Linked DNA regions of Homo sapiens. The protein of the gene in region 1 interacts with the protein of each later gene in a biochemical or structural test. Each region holds a gene or a part of one and is shown on either strand. Other genes may lie near its edges.

Region 1 (3,914 bases):
GGTATGGGTGAGAACCCTGAGACTTTTGAGAGTTTAAGTTGCCCCTGCTCGTGTTGACAGATATTAGGGTGGGTATAGTTGCAGCCATCACGCTAGTGACGGTCCTGGAGTGCAGCAAGTCTTCCAAAGCGTACTCTTTCTCGTTTTAGCATTGCTCTAGTGAGCTTACTGTGTGTAGACATGGAAGGGGCACGTGGGGGCAGGAGACACAGCATACAGGGAACCGTGGGTCACCCTTCAACTTACAGCAAAAACAATCAGGTTAAATCTACAAAAACCAGCCCCTCTCCTATTTCCCCTTCCTCCTGTACACACTCTATTACAAACACACTTTCTACAGCAGCTCTTTTAATGGTCAGCCCATTGCCCCAGCATCAAGTTAGCAGCATTGTTAGACACCGTGGATCCCTGAGCCAAGCACAGCCCTCCCCTCCCATCATGAACGCAGAGCAAACCTGGCCATCTGCCTGTCTCCTTGGCTTTTTCTCCATTGCCCTCTCACCATCTCCACCTCTTGAGGGACGTATATAATGGTGCTGCGCCCACGCCTGCTGTCCACCCGCCCCTCCTACGCCTTCTCTGTCGCCATGAACAGTGTGACAAAGCCAGCCTCCCTGCCTCTTGCTCTGCTGTAGGTCTCTTCCACATGGGTCACAGGAGAGTGTTTCTCTGCCCAATAACCTCGTTAGCTCCCCCCTGTGACATTCATAACACAAGCGGGGCAGCCGGCCCATGGCCCTGGGCCCACAAAGGCCCGGGTGGGAGCATCTGCCAGGGAAGAGGCAGGCAAGTATCCCCGGCCCTCCCTTCCCTCTGCCATAGGCCTCAGACCGGGAAGCACACCTCACACATGCCCATCTCTGCTGTCCCACTGCTAGCAAAACCAACTCTTATTATTGGCATACGAATGAACTTCTGGAAGCCAGCAGGCATAGGGGGAACAGGTGCACCGGTTGCACAGGGAGACTCTACCTCCCTTTTTGTTTTACTAAGAAGATTTTCAGGGGAGTCCTCTTGGGGACACTGTCCAATCCCACAGAATTGGGGAGCACTATGTGCATGAACTTGACTGCCTCTCAGCAGCTCAGAGTGGCACCAAAGGAGCAGTGTGTTCCCACAGCCAGAGGAGAGACGCCGCTGGAGACGAGGACGGCGGCCGTGCTGCCCTCTGTTGCCCGCTACACAGAAGACGAGCATCTTCCTCGGGATCCCTGAGCATGCCCCACCTCTCCTCCAGGTTAGTCAAATACTGAGGCAACATCAGCCCTCCAGCTAGGTCCAGACGTGGGACTGTGGGCAAGTCACTTCCTCTTTCCAAGGGCTTGGTTTCCCATTTGTCTAATAACGGGTTGGGTGAGATAAGTGTTTTTCTAACTTCTAGCTGCAACTCATTAATGGGTCATGAAATGCATTTGTGGGTCGTGACCAGCACTTTCTGTTGTTGTTCTCCTTTAACCAAATAGAGTAGGATAGAAAGTATCAGGCTCACCGTATGTCGTTAAGAGTAAATATTGTTCGGAGAAACTTTTGTATCAGTTTGATATACTTGTACAAGTATCCTGAGTTGTGTTATAAAATGTGTTTCTTCCTACATGGCTTAGGTCAAGAGTTTAAAGATAGTAAGCAGGATAACCTCCCAGGTGCCTTACAGGTCTACTTTGCTCTTACTTGAGGATCTGGAATGGGAATGACTCCCAAGGAGAAGAACAATGAGGAGACAATAGAATGGATCACGGTGTCTACCAGCCGGCAAATTCACAAAGCAGCCCTCTCCACAGAGCGGCGCTACTTCCCCGTGGCACCAGGGCTGCCCCAGGACCACTCTCAAGGACATCCCCCTCTCTACTGGTAGGGGATACTGAACAGAGAGAAAAACAAAAAAATCAAACATCATTTCATCTGTGCACTAGCTTCCTAGCTGTAATTAGCCAACCCCCACCCTCAACTGTGGAAAGCTCCACCTACCCAATGCAGCCATTCCTGGAAACCATCAGCTTTGTCGCTATGACAGGATGGAGAAATGGTCACAATATCCACTCAGAAGAAGGAAGCGGAAAACCAAATTGCATGCATGCATGCGACGATGAAGATTACAACCATGGGTAAATACATACATATATGCCTATGGATGAACTGGAAGGATGCACGGAAAATAAAAGCTGTTCTGTTAGGTGGGAGAAACACAGATGAGTTTGTAAAATTTGTACGTAATATTATTTTAACAAATAAAAACCAGGTACAAATTTCTCAGCAGTCTGTTAAGTCTCTTGATCAAAAATGCCAACAAGCAATATGCTGGTGCAGAAGGCACGCTCAGGGGTGAGGGTGTGCCCTCGCCATCGTTAATTGCCCACCTGGAGAGGTGAGATGCTGGTGACTTCCTGAGATCCTTCCTCCTGCAGCAGAGAGAGAGGCAATGAACCGATCAGCGATCCATTCTGATCGACTCATGACAATGTGCTCCTCCCTGTTCCAGGCAGCATGGAGGACTCCCCCCAAAACGTACAATATTCAGACTTCTTAAGGCTGGGCATCAATGCATTAGATAGTAGAGGATGGTGTGCTATAATGGCTAGGTCTGTACTACTATATGGATAACTTCTGAAGAAACTTCTCAAAGAAAGGGGGCTCTTGAAGGCTGGGCGCAGTGGCTCACAGTGTAATCCTAGCACTTTGGGAGGCCGAGGTGGGCAGATGACCTGAGGTCCGAAGTTCGAGACCAGTCTGGCCAACACGGTGAAACCCTGTCTGTACTAAAAATACAAAAATTAGCCAGGCATGGTGGCACGCGCCTGTAATCCCAGCTATTCTGGAGGCTTGGGCAAGAGAATCACTTGAACCCGGGAGTTGGAGGTTGCAGTGAGCAGAGATTGTGCCATGCACTCCAGCCTGGGTGACAGAGCAAGACTGTCTCAAAAAAAAAAAAGAAAAAGAAAAGAAAAAAAAAAAGAAAGGAGGCTCTTGAGTGAAGAGGAGCATTTGAGACACTTCTCAGAAGACTCTTCAGGGAGATGGGAAGGATTTGGAGAGTAGACTCAAAAAGCTCCAAGCTGGAACGTGGAGTGCACGGAGCTTGGGCAGCCTCCACTCCTGCCCCAGTCCCCACCAGACCCAGGAGGGCCTTTCTCCAGGTTGCTGCATCTGGAGATCTGAAGAGAGCAGGAGCAGCCACACGCCTTGCCATGGGCAACAGAGGCCGTCCCAGGGCCTAGGGCTCCAGCTCCCCTCCAACCAAAGCAGACCTCTGGAGAACACAGCTCACTGGTTCAGAGTATTAGCTCTGGAATCAGAAGGAGGTGGAATCTCCATCCCACCACCTACCAAGTGTGTGAAGATGAGCAAGTTACCTGACCTCTCTGAGTTTTCATTTTCTGATCTGCAAATAATGACAACAGCAATACCCACGTTGTAGTGCTGTTCTGAGGATTCACTTAAAATAATCCTTGTAAAAGCACAGTGCCTGGTTCAAGGTAAGCAATGAATGTCAGCCAGCATCCTCCCCAACCTGCCCCTCCTCTGCTCTCACTCCTAGTACTTCCTGCAGGACTGTGGTGGGGAGTTCCGACTGGAGATGCTCTCCAGCGTCTGGAGGGATGAGGAGAAAGGCGCCCAGCATCCCTGGATTGCAGGCAGATGCAGGGAGCAGGCCAAGCAGGCCAGGAAGAATGAGGGCTCTGTGCTTCCTGGAGAATCTGTCACTATCCAGTTGTGTATGTGTCCCAGAAATGACATCATCGAGTCCCCAAAGCCTCCTGCTGCTTTGCAGAACTGGGAGAAAGTGCAGCCCCACAGGGGAATGAAAAGAACCCCATGAACACTCAGCGAATGGAAGAGAGAAGTTGGCAACTCTAACCCAGCACATTCCACAATTCATTGAGATGCAGTTCACCCGAGCCAAGGAACGATGCCCAGAT
Region 2 (3,914 bases), on another chromosome or scaffold:
AGGAAACAAGACATCATGTATGGCTCAAGGATTGTGAAAGTGCATCAGAGCACTTTGTATCACCCCATATCAAGCCTCATCCTTAAGCCTGGAATGGTTAGTCCCAGGAGTTTCAGAATGCCAGTGAAACTTCCTGACTTTGCCTAAGAAACCACTATTTTTGGATTATATTTAAGTGTCACTCCTGAGAAGCTCACTTTTAAATTACATGGAAATCAAGAGAGAAAGATGTTTGTTTCACAAATATTTTAGAATTTCTTAAATACATCTATTCAGTAAGTCACACTAAAGCAATGGTTCTCAAACTCACTTAAGGGTATTTTTAAAAATCTAGATGCCCAAATCTCATCCCCAATCCTTGATTAGAGTTTTCCAGGGTAGGACCAGGTCTGCTGTTAAGAGCTAATTTGGGTGTTCTGCAGATGAAATAAACTATTCCTCGACAATTTCTGGCATGTCACTAAAGGGTATGAGTAATACAGCACCTGACTCAGTAGAGGCTGGAGGCTCAAATGGCTAGGCTACCAGTGAAGCAACTGTGCAACTCTGCCTCTCGAAATACACTAGGTATTTAATAAGCAAGCTGCTTTAAATATAAGGTGAAATTAGCCTACAAGTCTAAAATACTGTTGGAGTAAGCAACTATTCAATTTCACCTGTAACACTAAATTACAAATTCAAGGATTTTTTTCACTGTGGTTATTTTATTATGTCATTTTGAACAAATGACCTAGTAACATTATCCACTCAAATATGAATTAACACTACTAAAAACTCAAGATCTCTATCTTCAGATTAAGACCATAATTAGCAAAGAGCATATTTCGTAGGTACAGCAATAATAGGATTTTTGTAATAAATAATTTTACAAGTTGAAGCCTATCATAAAATCAAGTTACCCTAATATTATTTAAAACTTGAGCTTCTCCTTAAAGGTAATTTTCTTATACAGTTAATCACAATGAAAACAAAGCGAATACCTTATTTTCCTTTCAACACGCTTTTAACATATGCCATGGTATCCATCCTTCAATTGTTTGTGCCTTTTTTGAGAGCTGCCCATCTGAAGCAATAAAAGAGAGTTGAATAATTCAATAAACTGTTTCTTTAAAGGCCAGGAACGGGTGGTAGTCTCCCCACTCTGCTGCAAAGCCAAAGCAAATTCTCCAGTGGATTTTGTTAGACACATCTAGAAAATTAGATCCCCATACAATTAGGTCACGAAAACCTCCCGCAAGGCCCCTACCTTCCGCAACAAACTTAGGCCTTTCGTCCTACACTGTCACTGTTCCTGGGTTTACGCCTCCTCTCTCAAAGGCCTTCCTTCCTATCCCGTTCCCATTCGGATGTTACCAGGGTTAGGCGTCTCCGGCTTACTTCTAAACCTTGACTTTCTTGCCACCCCCGCCCTCCGTCCCGCTACTGGTTTCTTTCCCGGCCGTTGCGACGGAAGCTCGCGCCGGGGGACGATCCCCACTACGATAAATAAAGTGGGCTCAAGAGGCCCAACCAACCTCTTCCCAACCGAGCCTCAAGTAACGCTTCCCTTAGAGACCTAGATTCTCACAAGGAAGCAGGTGATAGACGGTGCATCCCAACCAATCACCAGCCAGCGGAGCGCAATAAGAAGGCAGTTAACCAATCGGAGAAGAGATGGGTGGCTCGAAGGATGGCCTGCTTTCCCCGGCGTCTCCAGGAAGTAGTGGTGGGACCCAGATCTTTCCCTCGAGCCCACCTCTCCAGGTCTTGGGCCTTCGCCCTCCTGTCCGGAGAACGTGTGCTGTGGGCGGCCGTTCTCTCGGGTGCTGGAGGCTGTGGTTGGGAGGCGGGATAGGCTTGCCGCCGCGCCTCCGGAGCCCGCTGTGCCCTCGAATTGGCCACTGAGGAGAGAAGCCGGAAGCCCGTGCTGCAGCGTGGGGTCGTCCAGCTGGAGGGGATACTCGGGAGGAAGAACGGCAGGCCCCAGCCCTTCTTTCCCGACAGCCACGCCGCCCACTTGGCGGCGGGGAGTCGCTCCGCAGCCGGCCCGGAGCTCGCCCGTGCAACTGAAAACTGCGTCCGTCGGGAGCTAGGGTGCCTGGCGTCCCGCGTTCCGCCCTCTTGCGCCGCCCTTACAGTGCCTCCTCCTCGAGGCCAAATGCCCGGCCGCTCAGCGCTCGTGGCAGCCGCGTAGTTGCAGAGACACGGTCTGCTTTCCAGGCTTGGGAAGTCCCAGCACTTAACTCTGCGCGTCGGTGTCGCTCGTTTGCCAGCCAGACTATAAAGTGCACCCAACGGTGTATGCGTCTCTTTACTTCCGGGTGTAACGTACTACCCAGCCAGGCCCTTTCCCTTGCTGTGCTTTGGAACCTGGAAATTACAAACCCTAATAAATTCTGAAGTCTGTCTGTCTGTCTATCTCTATTTGAGACAAGGTCTCATCCTGTCGCCCAGGCTAGAGCGATCGTAGCTCACTGCAGCCTCCAGCGATCCTCCCTCCTCATCCCAGTAGCTGGAACTACAGGCGCTTGCCATTAATTTCACATTTTTTCTTTTGTAGAGACGGGGGTCTCGCTATGTTGCCCAGGCTGGTTTCGTACTCGGCCTCAAGCAATCCTCTCACCTCAGCAAAATGGGATTACAGGCATGAGGCACCGCACCCCACTATATTTTGTGTTTTTTCACCTTCCCGCTAGGAAAGCAGTTTGAAACTCCCAACATTCCTCCCTCTGATTTTATTTCTGAGATGTGAGGCTTACTAAACTTACCTCACCGTTAGTTAAGATGCTGAGTAGGTCTCTGTCTAACCTGGTATAGTCCCCTTTCCTGACATCCCTACCATCTGATGACTTCATCACTGGAGAGTGCTCACAATGCCGTTACTTGTTATTCTTCCGTTTGTTCTTTCATTTCTGCATTAACTTTTGAGGAACTACCATATCCCCATTATTATGCTGGGCACCTGGATAACAAGCTACATGCAGTCCTTAGCATCAATGAGCTACCAGTGTAGTAAGGATCTATGGACAAGTGTTTAAAATAAGCATATGGATATGGATACTAAAATGGAAATATATAAAACAGCCTAGAAAGCCCTTCCAGATCTTTCTTCTGCTTACATTTACAGGCTGTTGTCTTGGCACTCCGAAACTGCTTGAAGTTCCGCCACAAGATATGGGAACTCCTAAGCAACCCCCAACTCCACTTTTACCTAATTTCCTCTGTCTCCCAAAACTCAGCTCAGTTCTCATCTTTAAGGAATTTTTCCTGATACCTCTGAAATAACACCCTTACCTCACCCTCCAGCCCGATATTTACACATAAAACTAAGCAAATGTCCCTTTTGGGGGCTCCCATACTCCCTCTATATATAAAACCCTATTTTAGCATGTATTCATGTATTTAACAAATAGTGAGTGTGACTATGTATTAGGTGCTGGTGATGACAGCCGTGAATCAGACAGTCATGTCCTCATAGAATGAAGTCCTTGCCCTCTTTTCCCATGGAAAAAGAGCCATTGAGCAAATACTTAAGATGATTTTCTGTTTTTAGGTCTTTACTACCTAGAGTCTGAACTGCTTAAGTGTGATCAAATGGTCTAATTCATTTTTGTAATCCCAGAACTTAGCACAGCACTTGGCAGAACATTCTCCTCAGCCTACTGCATAGATGAGCAGAGAAAAATGCAATCTTTTGGCAAACGGGATTAATGCACACAGTACAACGACTTCAGATATTGTGAACACACATCATAGAAAATAACAAGTAGAAATCATTTTTAATATCTGTGAATTTTGGAGAGTGCAATCAAATGCAATAATCCAAGTGCAAATACTTTTTACATGTTGAGTGGAAAAGACATATGTGTCTCTTCCTATTTTTCCTATTTCCTATTATATACCCTAAGAATAAAAAAAAAACTATTATAAAAATG

Evidence for each region.
Region 2: the proteins of CCND2 (region 1) and RNF6 form a complex in vitro, tested with the Homo sapiens proteins (one study listed by BioGRID).

Annotation. Positions count from the first base shown.
Region 1 is NC_000012.12:4,283,757-4,287,670, reverse strand, and holds part of CCND2 (G1/S-specific cyclin-D2), read right to left. Parts: intron 1-3,914. UniProt on the Homo sapiens protein: Regulatory component of the cyclin D2-CDK4 (DC) complex that phosphorylates and inhibits members of the retinoblastoma (RB) protein family including RB1 and regulates the cell-cycle during G(1)/S transition.
Region 2 is NC_000013.11:26,220,268-26,224,181, forward strand, and holds the start of RNF6 (E3 ubiquitin-protein ligase RNF6), read right to left. Parts: upstream 2,048-3,914; 5' UTR 1,736-2,047; exon of another isoform or gene 1,247-1,735; intron 1,064-1,246; 5' UTR 981-1,063; intron 1-980. UniProt on the Homo sapiens protein: E3 ubiquitin-protein ligase mediating 'Lys-48'-linked polyubiquitination of LIMK1 and its subsequent targeting to the proteasome for degradation. Negatively regulates axonal outgrowth through regulation of the LIMK1 turnover.